Linked DNA regions of Homo sapiens. The protein of the gene in region 3 purifies or fractionates together with the protein of the main gene of each other region. This does not show direct contact. Each region holds a gene or a part of one and is shown on either strand. Other genes may lie near its edges. The genes, in order: FKBP1B, RNPEP, AGL and GLO1.

What was found.
Region 1: the proteins of AGL (region 3) and FKBP1B fractionate together in Homo sapiens (co-fractionation; one large-scale study listed by BioGRID). This does not show direct contact.
Region 2: the proteins of AGL (region 3) and RNPEP fractionate together in Homo sapiens (co-fractionation; one large-scale study listed by BioGRID). This does not show direct contact.
Region 4: the proteins of AGL (region 3) and GLO1 fractionate together in Homo sapiens (co-fractionation; one large-scale study listed by BioGRID). This does not show direct contact.

Annotation. Positions count from the first base shown.
Region 1 is NC_000002.12:24,052,530-24,056,587, reverse strand, and holds part of FKBP1B (peptidyl-prolyl cis-trans isomerase FKBP1B), read right to left. Parts: intron 2,687-4,058; coding exon 2,639-2,686; intron 2,485-2,638; exon of another isoform or gene 2,396-2,484; intron 2,116-2,395; exon of another isoform or gene 1,972-2,115; intron 1-1,971. UniProt on the Homo sapiens protein: Has the potential to contribute to the immunosuppressive and toxic effects of FK506 and rapamycin. PPIases accelerate the folding of proteins. It catalyzes the cis-trans isomerization of proline imidic peptide bonds in oligopeptides.
Region 2 is NC_000001.11:201,988,831-201,992,888, forward strand, and holds part of RNPEP (aminopeptidase B), read left to right. Parts: intron 1-73; coding exon 74-214; intron 215-552; coding exon 553-701; intron 702-4,058. UniProt on the Homo sapiens protein: Exopeptidase which selectively removes arginine and/or lysine residues from the N-terminus of several peptide substrates including Arg(0)-Leu-enkephalin, Arg(0)-Met-enkephalin and Arg(-1)-Lys(0)-somatostatin-14.
Region 3 is NC_000001.11:99,874,065-99,878,122, forward strand, and holds part of AGL (glycogen debranching enzyme), read left to right. Parts: intron 1-622; coding exon 623-746; intron 747-1,089; coding exon 1,090-1,192; intron 1,193-1,293; coding exon 1,294-1,391; intron 1,392-2,393; coding exon 2,394-2,533; intron 2,534-3,576; coding exon 3,577-3,764; intron 3,765-4,058. UniProt on the Homo sapiens protein: Multifunctional enzyme acting as 1,4-alpha-D-glucan:1,4-alpha-D-glucan 4-alpha-D-glycosyltransferase and amylo-1,6-glucosidase in glycogen degradation.
Region 4 is NC_000006.12:38,689,530-38,693,587, reverse strand, and holds part of GLO1 (lactoylglutathione lyase), read left to right. Parts: intron 1-4,058. UniProt on the Homo sapiens protein: Catalyzes the conversion of hemimercaptal, formed from methylglyoxal and glutathione, to S-lactoylglutathione. Involved in the regulation of TNF-induced transcriptional activity of NF-kappa-B. Required for normal osteoclastogenesis.

The DNA.
Region 1 (4,058 bases), on a different chromosome or scaffold from region 3:
AGGGAAACACAAATCAAAACCACAGTGACCAGCCTGGCCAACATGGTGAAATCCCATCTCTACAAAAAATACAAAAATTAGCTGGGTGTGGTGGTGCGCACCTGTAATCCCAGCTACTTGGGAGGTTGAGGCACAAGAATCGCTTGAACCCAGGAGGCGGGGTTGCAGTGAGCCAAGATCGCACCACTGCACTCCAGCCTTGGCAACAGAGTGAGACCTTGTCTCAAAAAAAAAAAACAAAAAAACCCACAATGAAATGGTACTGAACGCTCACCAGAGTAGGCCAAAACCAAAACAAAGCCTGGTGTGGTGGCTCATTCCTGTAATCCCAGCACTTTGAGAGGCCGAGGCAGGCAGATCACCTGAGGTCAGGAGTTTGAGATCAGCCTGGCCAATATGGTGAAACACCGTCTCTACTAGAAACACAAAAATTAGCCAGGCATGGTGGCGGGCGCCTGTAATCCCAGCTACTCGGGAGGCTAAGGCAGGAGAATCGCTTGAACCCAGGAGGCAGAGGTTGCAGTGAGCCAAGATCATGCCATTTCTCTCCAGCCTGGGCAACATAGACTCTGTCTCAAAAAAAGAAAAAACAAAACAAAACCAAAACCTGACAATAACAAGTGTTGGGGAGGACACAGGGTAACTGGCAGTCTCCTACACAGCTGCCTAGAGTGGAAACTGGCACAACGACTTTGGAAAGCTGTCAGACAGTACTGCTAACGCTGAGCCCAGGAGGTACCCCACTTCCAGGTATATACCCAACAGAAACATGCACATATGTCTGTACACATGTACACTAAGAGATGCCTGCAAGACTGATCAAAGTGACACTGTTTGTAATAAACAAAAACTATGAACAACCCAAATGTTCATCAACGGTAGAGAGGATACATAAATTGCAACATACTTGTACGTTAAAATACTGTAGAGGAATAAACCATTCTGGATATATCTCGCAGACATAATAGTGAGTGAAATAAGCCAAACACAAAAGAGTACCTACGCTGTGGTTCCATTAAGATGAAGTTCAAAAATAGGCAAAACCAATCCATGGAGACAAAAGTCAGAGTAATAGTTGCCAGCCAGGCACAGTGGCTCACACCTGTAATCCCAGCACTAGGAGGCCAAGGTGGAAGGATCACTTGCATACAGGCGTTCGAGACCAGCCCGGGCAACATAGTGAGACCCTCATCTCTACAAAAAATTAAAATTAGCCAGGCATGGTGGCTCATGTCTGTGGTCCCAGCTAGTCAGGACACTGAAGCAGGAGGGTCACTTGAGCCCGAGAGGTCGAGGCTGCAATGAGCTGTGATCACCACTGCACTCAGCCTGAGTCACAGAGTGAGACCCTGTCTCAAAACAACAACAACAATGACAAAAAAAAAAAAAAAAAGAAAAACAATGATAGCTACCTCTAGGGAGGTGAAATGACTGGGAGAAGGCATCAGGGGGACTTTTGGGGATGCTGGTTCTATGCTTGTATGTTCTATGCTTCTCTAGGTGGTAGTCACATAAATGTGATCACTTTGAAAAAATTCATTGACCTAGACATCTTACATTATGTTCTCTACTATATTTATATTTAACTTTAAAGTTTACCAAAAGTCCCATAGTCTCCCGCTATGTTTGATAAGACATAGTCTCTCCCAAGACAGGAGCTGCTGCCCTATGTATGTATTGTGAAAGGACTTTGCAAAAGGATGTTGTGGTTTCAGTAACTTGATAAATACTGGTCTGTCTACAACATGCAAAATTGTTAAATCAATTACACAGGTCAGAGGCCCCAGACGACCCATGGTAATTAGGCCACATCACCAGGAGATAAAACATGGTCCAGCCCACTGACATCAGCGACCAGCAACACAACTGCTGAAAACATCCACACCATCTGCCTAGAATTAACCTTGTGCTTCACACTGGCCCACAGAACTGCTAAAAATGGCCCCATCCGAGTATGTCCTAGGAATTAACCTGGGCTTGCTGTCTGCTAAGTGGCTGTCATCGAGTTTGCCACTTTAGGAAGCAGGTCACAAGGCAGGGTGCTCACCTCCCTTGGAACAAACACCTGCTCATGATCTTCCTGCCAGCAGTCCTGAAGAACTCACTCTACCTCGCCTGCAGATAAAGAGCATCCAACTGGGATCAGTCCCGCTCTGGGCTCCCTCAGTACCCAGAGAAAAGCACTGCCATCACCCCACCCCTCAAATGGCATCGGAGCCTCTGGGTGACTTGTCTGTCCTCTCCCCTCCTCTTCTTCTCTAATGATACTGCAGGATGGAGAGAAAGTCTGCGGGGAGCTCTAGGAGGGATTTCCAAATATCAGACAGACCCAGCAGGGACAGGGGCTCCACCATACCTGCAACAGAAGGAAGGGGACTGAAGGTGTTTGACTCACCTAGAAGCTGGCACCATGGATGGCCCTTGCTGGTAGAAGAGGGAAAGAGTTGGCCTTCCAAGCCTCCTTTATCATTCCCACTAGACTGGCTGGGAGGAGTAGAGGATGGCTGGTCACAGGGAGACCCTGCTGCCTTGGGCTTTAGCCCTGATCCAGAGGCAGGCACCTCTGGAGAGAAGCTCAGAGGACAGCCCTGCCTTGGGAGGGGAAGGACTGGGTGGGGGCTGAGGGGGTGAGACTTACCTGTGTAGTGCACCACACACGTTTGGCCCTTCTTGGGGAATGTCCTTCCTGCAGGGAGACATGAGGGCAGATGAAGGAGTAGGATATTGGAAAAACACCTGGGACATTAAGTATGATCCTGACCAAGAGCTCCAGCCTGCATTCCCCTCCATGCCATGGAGATGCCTGTGGCCCTAGTTCTGGCTCTGGGCCCTGTACGAGCCAGAATGAATCACGTCACCTCTCTGGCCTGGATTTACTTTACCCCCTCAATTTTCTCAATTCTGCTGTCTCCTGGGCTTTCCCACCACCCCACCCCCACTTTCTTTGATTGCCCCTTTTACTTCACATCATCCATTCCACAGACATTTACAGTTGGCCTCCTATGTGCCAGGCCTGGACCAGACTTCAGACATGCAGAGCAATGTATGAACTCATGAGGAAGGTAGGGAAACAGACACACAAATACCAGATTACAATGCAGATTATAATCCATCCATCAAAGATGAATAAACACAATAATTTACAAATATTTGCTGAGAGGCCAGGCATGGTGGCTCACATCTGTAATCTCAGCACTTTGGGAGGCTGAGGTGGGAGGATCACTTGAGCTCAGGAGTTCTAGATCACCCTGGGTAACATAGGGAGACCCCATCTCTAAAAAAAAAAAAAAAAAAAAAAAATCTTTTCAATTAGCTGGGTGTGGTGCCGCATACCTATAGTCCCAGCTACTGAAGAAGCTGAAGTGGAAGGATTGTTTGAGCCCAGGAGGTCAAGGCTGCAGTGAGCTGTGTTCATGCTACTGCACTCTACCCTGGGTGACAGAGCAAGACCCTGTCACAATAAACAAACAGACAAAACAAAACAAAACAAAACCACAAATATTTACTGAGTACCTATGGTGTGCCAAGCCTGTGCCTGATCACAGGGATACAGCAGTGAACACTACAAACAAGATCTCTATCCCTGTTCTTTTAGAGTTTACTTTTTTTTTTTAAGAGTAGGGGTCTCAGTGTGTCACCCAGGCTGGAGTGCAACAGCATGATCTCGGCTCTGTGCAGCCTTGACCTTTCCTGGGCTCAAGCAATCTTTCTTCCTCTGCCTTCTGAGTAGCTAGTACTGCAAGTGCATGCTGCCATGCCCAGCTAATTTTTTTAAAAAAAATTTGTAGAGACAGGGTCTTAACATGTTGTCCAGGTTGGCCTTGAACTCCTGAGCTCAAGAGATTCTCCCACCTCAACCTCCCAAAGTGCTGAGATTATAGGCATGAGCCACCAAACCCGCCCTGGAGTTTATATTCTAATGGACAGAGACAATACTTAAATATACAAAATGATTATGGATTATGATGAATACTCTAAAGAAAATACACACAATGATGTATTAAAGGGAGATGCAGTGGGACAGGCCATTTCAGACAGAGTGGTCCAGGATGGCCTCT
Region 2 (4,058 bases), about 100 Mb from region 3:
CCAGCTCACTTCTCTGGCCAGACTGAGCTCGTGTGGGAGATGTCAGTTCTGAAATGTTCTTCTTTTCGCTTAGGTTTGCTGGTTGGCTCCCGAGCAGACAGCAGGAAAGAAGAAGCCCTTCGTGTACACCCAGGGCCAGGCTGTCCTAAACCGGGCCTTCTTCCCTTGCTTCGACACGCCTGCTGTTAAATACAAGTATTCAGCTCTTATTGAGGTAAGGAGACTAAGGTTAGGTGCACCTGCCCTTGGGATGAAGAAATGATTTCAGATCTATCAATCAGGTCACGTTTCAGTGGTAAATTATTATATCCATTCAGTGGTACTTCTGAAAAATTGCTTACTTTTAAATTCTTCCACCTACTGAAGTTGTATGTAGCCTTCCTCTAAATCCCATCAGTTGAGCACAGATTTAGTTTCTTGAAACCTTTGTGTTCTCCAAGATAGACTCCAGGCCATTATCATCACACACAGGTGGCCGGTCATGCTCTTATTCAAACTAATCAAAAGGAAACTCTCTCCAGGTAAAATCTCCTAAGCTTTCTCTGTTGTCAGGTCCCAGATGGCTTCACAGCTGTGATGAGTGCTAGCACCTGGGAGAAGAGAGGTCCAAATAAGTTCTTCTTCCAGATGTGTCAGCCCATCCCCTCCTATCTGATAGCTTTGGCCATCGGAGATCTGGTTTCGGCTGAAGTTGGACCCAGGTAGGAGACAAAGACCCCACAGGCAAGGTTGGATTGGCCTCAGAGGTGAGGAGGACTCTGACCAGTGGACCTGCTGGGGGGGTTCTTGGGCAGTCTTGGATCCTCTGTCTGAGTCCAGAGCCTTTCTGCAGCTCATGCAGCATGAGCACAGCTGGAGGAAGTGCTCTTTTTCTCCCTGCCTTTCTCACTCCCTCTCTCCAGTTCTAATCCTGCTGCCTGGAATGAGATCATCATCCCTGCTAGCAGTAGCGCTGTCCTGGGCTGCCTTACAGAGGGATGTTGGAATTTAGGCTGCAGTTTTGGGAAATGGATTTTTTTTTTTTTTTGAGATGGAGTCTTGCTGTGTTGCCCAGGCTGGACTGGAGTGCAATGGTGCGATCTTGGCTCACTGCAACCTCTGCCTCCTGGGTTCAAGCGATTCTCCTGCCCCAGCCTCCCAAGTAACTGGGACTGCAGGCATGCCCCACCACGCTCGGCTAATTTTTGTATTTTTCGTAGAGACGGGGTTTCACCATGTTGGCCAGGCTGCTCTTGAACTCCTGACCTCAGGTGATTCACCCGCCTTGGCCTCCCAAAGTGCTGGGATTACAGGCATGAGCCATCATGCCCGGCCTGGGAAATGGATCTTTATTAATATCTTTAAGTTCTAAATGCCCTTCTAGCAGCTATATCCACTTTCCTATCTTTGTACCAAATCTTCCCCATTTTCTTTTGCACGTAGTTCCTGGAAATAACAACTTTGGTATCATTTCCCTCGAAGAGGGAAGTGGACTCTCCTTCCTATCTGCAGCAGATGCATGAGTCTAAGCCTACGGTGAGAGCAATGCCTCCGTGAAGTTACATGGATCTTGTGAAGATAAAAAGGGATTTTGTAAGGTTTCCTGATAAAAGAGGTTTGACCAGGAGTATAGGTTTTTCCTGGCTCTCATATTACCTCCACCATAGCTTAGTCCCAATGTGGGAGCATCACAGGCTGGACGGTGAAGCCGTGACCTTTTCCTGGCACTGTTGCTGTTCTTTATCTCTGGCCCTGCTCCCAGTTCCTAGAGGCAGTGGTGTCCTTGACAACATTAGTTACGAGCCTCAGACTTCATAACTGGGCTCAGTGGCACTGCTGGTATCATGAGTCTTAGTTTCTGGTTATCAGTTGGAATAATAAATGGGATTCCATTGGCATCTGCTCCCAGCGCACACATTCAAAACAATACCAGTCTGGAAAGACAAAGTGCCCTCCTCTTACGAAGGGCTGTCTTCCTAATAGGCAGGGCGGGAAATAACCAAAAGGATGTCATCTTTGCAATAGACAAGCAAGTAGATAAGTAAAGGAACGTCGTTTCCAAGAATACCCTTACTAAGGTTCTACTTGTAAGAGTATGAACTATTAATGGGAAATGAGAGAACAATAGATTCTAAAGATACTGAGTGATAATGATTTCTTTTTATACTGCCTGTAATAAAATGACAACATGGTATATCGAACTAGGTGACAGAATCCACTTAACTGGTGGTAATGCCTTATTCCTTCCGTGATTAAATGGACAGTTCTTGCCTCCTGGGTCACATCGTAGGGTCTTGTGGGGGGTTATTTATTTATTATTTTTGAGATGGCGTCTTGCTCTGTTGCCCAGGCTGGAGTGCAGTGGCGCGATCTTGGCTCACCACAACCTCCGCCTCCTGGGTTCAAGTGATTCTCCTGCCTCAGCCTCCCAAGTAGCTGGGACTACAGGTGTGTGCCACCATTTCTGGCTAATTTTCATATTTTTAATAGAGACAGGGTTTCACTATGTTGGCCAGGCTAGTCTTGAACTCCTGACCTCGTGATCCATCCACCTCGGCCTCCCAAAGTGCTCGATTACAGGCATGAGCCACCACGCCGGGCCGTGGGGGTTTATTAAATCGGAGGGTCTTCTGGCAAGGTATGCCACCTATCCCAGTCCCTGTTACTGCAAGAGGAAAATCCTGGGCAGAGGGGAATTATGGGTATATCCCAGTAGGCCCTTTTATGTATAATCTCTTCTAATCCTTACACAGACTCCATGAGGATGATACTTTCTACATTTTAAAAATAAGCAAACCAAGGCTGTGGTGAGTGGCTTGTGCAGGACCACTAGTTGGCAAAACTGGAATTAAAATTCAGGTATTTCCATTGCAAATCCAGTGCTCTTTGCAATATACTACAGGTAGTGAGATTGCAGCTTGACTGAGAGCATCCTGATTTATTTTGACAGAAATGTGTGTCCTGGTGGAGGTATCTTGGATGACTGTCTTAAACCTTCTAGTTGTAACAAGCTGAAGTCCACTGGGCTGAAGGACTGTGGTAATTTTGACATCCAAGGTGGTGGTAGAACAATTCACAAAGTAATTCCTTGAAGATACTGACTGCCGTCCCATGATCTTTTTCTGTCTGGTTTCCTGTCACATCATCTTTGGCGACTTTTCTCTCCTAACACCCAGGGTTGAGGGTGGCTGCAGGGTTTCTTGTGCCTTTCTCCCTCCCTCCCTCCCTCCCTCTTTCTTTCTTTTCTTGCCTCGCTCTCTTGCCCAGGCTGGAATGCAGTGGCACAATAACAGCCCATTGAACCTCAAGCTACCAGGCTCAAGCAGTCCTCCCACTTCAGTCTCCAGAGTAGCTGGGACCACAGCTACTCTGTCACCATGCCCAGTTAATTTTATTTATTTTCTGCAGGAGCAAGGTCTTGCTATGTTGTCCAGGCTGATCTTGAACTCCTGGGCTCAAGAGATCCTCCCACCTCGGCCTCCCAAAGTGTTGGGATTGCAGGCATGAGCCACAACACCAACCTTCAGGGTTTCTTGACCTCTACTCAGGGAGCCTTCTCCACTCTGTCAGCCACCCATATTCACACCCATGCTCTGGAGTCTAGAGCCTAGACATCGTCATTGTCATGAACTGTACCATATCTGAACTTTTAAGGCCCTTGAGCCCCTTGTCCTCATTCATCCTGACTCTGCTAACCTTCCAGCTCTCTGACGGCCTCTCTCCCACTATATTCCACCATGTCTCCTCCTTGAGCTCATGGCAGCCTCCCTTCCGGCAAGCCACTCATTTCTCCTGGGCAGTCAAGACCCTCCTGACTGGGCTTCCCTCCCTGGCCCAAGTGTGTGGTTGGTTACCTCTTACCAACACCCCAAAGCCCCTTGCCCACTTCCCGCTGCTATAATGTCCCAGTCCCTTGTTATACAATTCCTTTTCTCTACTTCTATAAGTGGGTATTTGGGAGATGTAGAAAATAGTGAAACTACACAGTAATAACCACTACACCTTTCTCAATTCTTCGTGAAAAGTTGGAATTAAAGGAAAGTTGAAATAGACATGTGTGGGGTTTTCCAGAAAAATGT
Region 3 (4,058 bases):
AATATGGTTGATGAAAAGGGAAAAAAAGTATTAAACCTGTGTGCTTCTTTTAGAGAATTCAAAGAAAGTCAGGTTGTTAATAAGACTTCAGGAAGCAAACTTTGAAAGCAATCTTGAAAAAGAACTCCTGAGGTTAGAATATTTGGTAGCACCGGGGAGGAAAACGGGTTCCACTAAAGTCCTTAAAGTGTTTAAAAAAAAAAAAGGTACATGTATACATGTATAACAAACCTGCAAGTTGTGCACATGTACCCTAGAACTTAAAGTATAATAAAATATATATATAAAAAAATAAAAAAAGAATAGAATAAGTGAATGCTGATGTAGGCAGAAAAGTGGGGGCTGAGATTGAATTGATAGGAATCCTTGTGTCTTTCTTTTATGTTATTTTTGTCTCTGTTTCTTTCTCCCCCACACCCCTCGTGTGTGTTTGCGCGTGCACGCACGTGCACACACGTGCACACAGCAGGATGAGAAGGGGAGGAGGTAGGAGGATACCTGTGAAATAAATATTTGTTTTATTTTCAGTGAAAAAATTATAGGCCAAAAATTAGAAAATAGTGACAGTTATAATCTCTTTGTAGATATTTGCATTTAAGGTATCGTCTTTTCTTTCTTTTAGAAAATAGGCGAGTAACCAAGTCTGATCCAAACCAACACCTTACGATTATTCAAGATCCTGAATACAGACGGTTTGGCTGTACTGTAGATATGAACATTGCACTAACGACTTTCATACCACATGAGTATGTAATGTGTTTTTTTCTGTGAAATAATAATATTACTTACAAACCTTTATGGCTAGTATGATTTTCATACTACTTATTAAAAACGCTTAATAGAAAATGAAATAAAGTAATTCACTGTAATTCTACTATTTCAGCACATGACATTTTCCCACTTTTTCTGTGTGTGGGCCATGTTTCTATATGTGTATATAAACATTTTTACAATTGGAAAACATCATCAGCCATAATTGAAATCCCGATGAATATATTTAAGGTTTCTGTGACCTTTGTTAGAAAGTTTTTAAATGTAGAATCTGTAAAGCCATTAAATATTATATCTGCATTTCTCCATCTGCTCTAGCAAGGGGCCAGCAGCAATTGAAGAATGCTGTAATTGGTTTCATAAAAGAATGGAGGAATTAAATTCAGAGAAGCATCGACTCATTAACTATCATCAGGAACAGGTTTTACTTATTTTTGAACTGCTGCTTTTCCTTGCATCTTACTACTATTTTTTTGTTGTCTTGAGGATGGTGATGATCTAACACAATTTAATGTTTTTCAGGCAGTTAATTGCCTTTTGGGAAATGTGTTTTATGAACGACTGGCTGGCCATGGTCCAAAACTAGGACCTGTCACTAGAAAGCATCCTTTAGTTACCAGGTGTTGCATTTTTGTTTTTTTTCTTATTGATGGTTGAAAACTGAAAATTGTATTTAACTTTTGAAATTAACCTAAATGTTTTCTTTAACATGTGAGTTCAGTACATTTCTTAAATTGAAATAGAAGTTTTGATTTGGACATAGGCTTAATATTAACTAATTTTGTTAGGCAAATATTTTGTTAGAGAAACTGTCATCAGTATAAACCAATTCATAGTTATTATTTAATGTTTCTGGAGGACTGCATACTTAGTAATAAATTCAATATTAATCAAATTAAGCAAGCATCTGGCTCCTTACTTTGTAAGTGACATAAAGCATAGGTTGGGCAACTAGAGTGCAGTAAAAGCCTTTGCATATCTTTACTTAGAGTCTTTTTTAAAAATATCTTTGCAAAGTAACATCAATGCCTCAATTATGTATTTATTTTTTTTCTTTGAGATGGAGTCTTGTTCTGTCACCCAGGCTGGAGTGCAGTGGCACGATCTCAGCTCATTGCAACCTCCGCCTCCAGGGTTCAAGCGATTCTCCTGCCTCAGCCTCCCAAGTAGCCAGGACTACAGAGGTGCACCACCATGCCCAGCTAATTTTTGTAGTTTTAGTAGAGACGGGGTTTCCCCATGTTGGCCAGGCTGGTCTCAAACTCCTGACCTCAGGTAATCCCCCTGCCTCGGCCTCCGAAAGTTCTAGGATTACAGGCATGAGCCACCATGCCCAGCTGCCTCAATGATTTTTTAAAATAATTTTATGAAGTTTTAAAAATTGTTTAAACTGTTAGCCAGATATGCTGTCATGTTAACTCCCTATTTCTCACATCCTGCTAGATTTACTCAAAAAGCCTAATGAAGATTTTTGACCTATATTGAAGTTTTTTTCCTATAAATAGCATCAAACTTATTTTATTCTATTCATTAGAAAAGAAGTTTAGTTTTAATATTGCAAATTTATATTCTCTCCAAGGAGTTTCTTTGTATGGATTTAATATTTAATTATATTTTCATAGGTATTTTACTTTCCCATTTGAAGAGATAGACTTCTCCATGGAAGAATCTATGATTCATCTGCCAAATAAAGCTTGTTTTCTGATGGCACACAATGGATGGGTAATGGGAGATGATCCTCTTCGAAACTTTGCTGAACCGGGTATGTAATTTTTAACTTCTCTGTGGATGGGGAAAGAATAGTTCATGGCAAGGTCAAAATAAAATCTGCTTTACTGATTTTCTTCCCCATTAGTCTATTGGTTTTTAAATATTTCACCATAAAGGTACCAGAGATACATACAATTTGAGAAAGAAAACATGGAGCCAACAAAAAAAGAAGTTCATCTTCTGTCCTCTCCTTTGCCTTCCTACCTTTTATCTTCTCAAACAGAATAACTTTTATGTACTGTTTTCTATATTGTGGGTCTACATAAGCTTTTATTTGGACAAAATATTATTGCATTTTTACAGACAAGTTTGAAACCACTGCTATTACAATTACATTGACATAAGAGATATTTTCACTCATTGGCCAGAGGTATTAAGAATTTCAGTGGCAATTAAACCAGAACCTAATGGTTTTAGGTCCCCCCTCACTCTTAGTGTCTTGTGTTTCTATAGCTATTTCATTACCAGGAAGAATGTTGCAGGAGCCCATTGATATATTTATTTTTTAACATTTCGAAACTAGGAGTCTATATTAGTGACATTAAAATTTATTCAGAAATCTTAATGCTTTTTTTTAAGAGTATAAATTTGGGTGTAAGTATCTCTGCCCTCTTTTTTCTAGCCATTCTAAACGAAATCAAGCCATTCTGCTGTATGCCATGGATCTAATACAACCTGTTGCCGAAAATAAGTAGGAGGGTGGAGATGGAGTTTTAAATGTTTTTGGTAGAACTATGGTTTTAAAAGGCCTATGATATTAACATTTCTGTTTTCCCTTATGATGCGACTTGGGTTTTTGAAATTGAGGACAAATTTTTAGAAGAGACTGTAAGCTAGAGTTTTTTCAGAATAGCTATGAGAAATAAATAATTATTAATTTTTTAAAACATTATCTCATACCACTTTAGATATAATTTAACCAATATATCATTTATGGCAGAAATGATCAAAGCAATTTAAAAACCAGTGTTTCCTTGAAGTAATTGTTTTCATTTTATTTCTTGAACCATTGAAAGCAATCTCTTTTCTGAACAGGTTCAGAAGTTTACCTAAGGAGAGAACTTATTTGCTGGGGAGACAGTGTTAAATTACGCTATGGGAATAAACCAGAGGACTGTCCTTATCTCTGGGCACACATGAAAAAATACACTGAAATAACTGCAACTTATTTCCAGGGAGTACGTCTTGATAACTGCCACTCAACACCTCTTCACGTAGCTGAGGTACAGAAAAACAATTTATCTACATTAAGAAAAGAAATTCAGTGTTCCTTCCTAGCTTTCCTTAAGTAAACTATGCAGGTAAATGTTTCCTTTTGCTAGTTGGACACAAGCATTGATTTGGTGGTAGTATTTATCACTATTGCATAATTAGCATAATTCTAACAATCTTTTGCAGTTGTTATGGAATACTGGGCTATAAAATATTTAACTAGCTAATTTTAAAATTTTAATTTAGGGAAGTTGATCACGTTTCTGATAATATGGAGTGCAATCATATTGGCTACTGTGAATACA
Region 4 (4,058 bases), on a different chromosome or scaffold from region 3:
ATTATAAAAGAGGAAAAGTCTCAAATTAATAACGTAAGCTTCCTCCTAAGAAACTAGAAAATGAAAAGCAAAGTAAACCCAAAGGAAGCAGAAGGAAGGAATTAGAGAAGCAGAAATTAATGAAATTAAGAACAGAAAATCAGTAAAACAGAGCTGGTTCTTTGAAAAGACCAGTAGAATAGACAAACCTGTAGCAAGACTGACAATGAAAACAAAGAAGCACAAACTACCAATATCAGGAATGAAATAGGGGATACACTACAGACCTTTCTGACATAAGAAAGATAAGGGAATACTAAAAACAACTTTGTATACATAAATTTGACAACTTGAATTGGACCAATTCCTCATCCAATATGAACTAATATGATGAGTCCTATAACTTAAGGCAATTGAATTTATGATTAACAAACTTCCAAAGAAGATTTGTCCAGACCCAGGTGATTTCACTGGAGAATTCTGCCAAATGTAAAAGAAGAATTAACATCAATTATACACAACCCCTTCCAGAAAACTGAAGACGGGAGAACACTTCCCAATTCATTTGATAAAGCTAATATTACCCTGATACCAAAAACAAATGAAGACAGTACAAGAAAACTACAGACCAATATCTCCAATGAATATAAATGTAAAAACCCTTGACAAAATGTTAGTAAACAGAATTCAACAGTATATATAGAAAGAATTATACACCTTAACCAAGTGAGGTTTATATCTAGGATGCAAGCCTGGTTCAGTATACAAAAATCAGTCAGTATAATCCACCATATTAAGAGGGTAAAGAAGAATCACATGATCATATCAGTTGGTACAGAAAAGGCATTTGACAAAATTCAACACTCATTCATTATTTTTTTTAAGTTCAGAAAAAAATAGGAATGGGGGCATTTCTTTAACTTGATAAAGAGCTTCTCTTGAAAAGTTAGAGCTAATATTACACTCAGTGGTGATGCTTTCTCCCTAATTTTGGTAATAAGACAAGGATGTCTGCTGTTACCACTCTTATTTGACAAAGTGCTGAAAGTTCTAGACAGTGCAGTAAAGCAAGAAAAGGAAATAAGAGACATATAGGTTGGAAAGGAAGAAATCAAACTGTCCTTATTTGAAGATGACATGATTGTCTACATAGGGAATAATAAGTAATTTACAGAAAACTCCCAGAATTCATAAATGAGTTCAGCAAGGTTGCAGGGTACAAAATAAACATACAGAAATCAATCGCGTTTCTATATACTAGCAAAGAACACACAGGCACCAAAAATTAAAAAATACATTACCATTTACAATTGCCCAATAAAATGAAATACTTAGATATAAATCTAATAAACATTTACAGGACACATATGCTGAAAACAGCAATGGCGATGCAAAAAGTCATAGATCTAAATAAATGGAGAGATTTATTGTGTTCATGATTGGAAGACTCAGCACAGTAAGGATATCAATTCTCCCCAAATCAATATACATGTTTAACACACTCCTTATCAAACTTTTTTAGACAGAGACAGGGTTATTCTAGATTGAAAGGCAAAAAAACTAGAATAACAAACCATTTTGGAAAAGAATAAAGTGGGAAGAATTTTTCTACCTGATTTTAAGACTTACATAGCTACAGTAATCACTACTCTGTGGTATTGGCAGAGAGATAGAACATTGAAACAAAATAGAGAACCCCAAAATATACCCACACTAGTATGCCCAACAGCTTTTTGACAAAGATGAAAAAGCAGTTCACCAGAGGGAGGATAGCCTCAACAAATGGTGCTGAAGCAATTGGACATCCTTAGGTTAAAAATGAAGCTCTACTCAATTCTCATCCCTTATACCAAAAAAAAAAAAATCCATTTACTGGTGCTTAAAGGGGCCTTAATCCTTTGGTTCACATCCTTGCCTCACTTTTACAGTTTTGTAAGGATTGTATTGTAGGCAGGTAGGACATGCACTAGAAACATCCTTGATTGTACCTTTAAAGTTTTCTTGGCGGTTGCGGTGGCTCACACCTGTAATCCCAGCACTTTGGGAGGTCAAGGCGGGTGGACCACAAGTTCAGGAGTTTGAGATCAGCCTGGCCAATGTGGTGAAACCCTTTCTCTACTAAAAATATAAAAATTAGCTGGGCGTGGTGGCTGGTGCCTGTAGTCCCAGCTACTCAGGAGGCTGAGGCAGGAGAATCGCTTGAAGCTCGGGAGGCGGAGCTTGCAGTGAGCCAAGATTGCGCCACTGCACTCCAGCCTGGGTGACAGAGCGAGACTCCATCTTAAAAAAAAAAAAAGTTTTCTTACAGTAGTTTTCTTAATTAAATTTGGAGAATGACACTTCCCCTCCCCCCGAAAAAAACCTTATTATTTCTATTGTCCACCTTTTGATAAGGCACAGGAGCAAATCTTTGTCACCCAGTAGCCATCCCTGTAAAACCAAAGATAGTTTAGGCATAAAAGACACCTTATTTTTATTGTTCTAAATTTAAAGCATGATAAGGGAAAGACAAAATTAAGGACTATCAGGTGAGACAAGACATGAGCATAGCATAAGTCTTACTTTTTAAAACAGGAGATACATGTATTTTAAACGATATTTTAGAACCATACCAATAAAGCAATAATTTTTAGGAACTTAACTTTTTAAAACAGGAACTTTTTCTCAAGATCATGCAAGTGTTCACAAGAGGCACATGGAGTTAACAGACTATTTTGGTGATAAAAATAAAACTGTTATCTGAGCATAGAATAACTTGATCATTTTCTTAAAAATAAGCCCTTCTTGTTTTTATATCCATTTAACAATTTGTAGCAAAGGATTTATAAGCCTCTATTTTATCAATAAATTCACTAACGTTGAATATATCTTACTTTTTTTGCCACGTATAGACTTTTTAAAGTGAATTTTAATATTCTTTATGTGTATGTGTTTAGGCAGATACAGTACATAGTTCTCTTAATAATAAAGTTAAAGTCTGTAACATTAATTTTAAGATATAATTAATCTCAATAGCATATTAAGTGGTATTTGTTTTCATATGCATGTGTGTGTGTATATATATATAATGTTTTTAAAAGCTAATATACCATTTTATATATTCCCATGCCATTAGACTTAGTATACCATCTGTATATATCTCCATGCCATTTAATATACCTCGACGCAGCATTTTAAATGTTTTTCATAATATTCTTTTATGCCTGTGTCATACTATCTAACTATTCCTTTGTTAGAGGCAGTTAGTGGTTTAAAAGCAAGGACTTTGGAATCAGATTGCTTGGGCCAGAATTTTTTCTCTGCCACTTACTTTCTCAGCAGTAAAATGGGGATGATAATAATATGTATCTCATGGGCTTGTTGTGAAGATTACATGTATTAGTTTCTTTGAATCTCTTAGAACAGCATCTGGCACATAGTTATTGTGTAAGTGTTGTGATGGATGCCTTTGTACATAAATCTTTGTCAGAGTAATTATTTCCTTAGAATTTTAGAAAGAGAACATCTTGGTCAAAGAATATGAATTCTTAGGCCAAGGCAGGCGGATCACGAGGTCAAGAGATCGAGACCATCCTGGCCAACATGGTGAAACTCTGTCTCTACTAAAAATACAAAAATTAGCCGGGCTGGGTGGCGGGCGCCTGTAGTCCCAGCTACTCGGGAGGCTGAGGCAGGAGAATCGCTTGAACCCGGGAGGCGGGTTGCAGTGAGCCAAGATCTCACTGCTGCACTCTAGCCTGGAAACAGAGGGAGACTCTATCTCAAAAAAAAAGAAAAGAATATTAATTCGTGCACCACCACTACTGGCTGATTTTTTGTATTTTTAGTAGAGACGGGGTTTCACCATGTTGATCAGTCTGTTTCTCGAGCTCCTGACCTCGTGATCCGCCCGTCTCAGCCCCCCAAAGTGCTGGGATTACAGGCGTGAGCCACTGCACCTGGCCAAGAATATGAATTCTTGAGGACTCTTGATATTCCAGTTGTTTTCCAGAAAGATTGTAAGATAAGGATATGATAGACTATGGGATAGAATAGTTAAGGTTGTCTAACTTTGGCAAGTACTTGGCATGGCATCTACA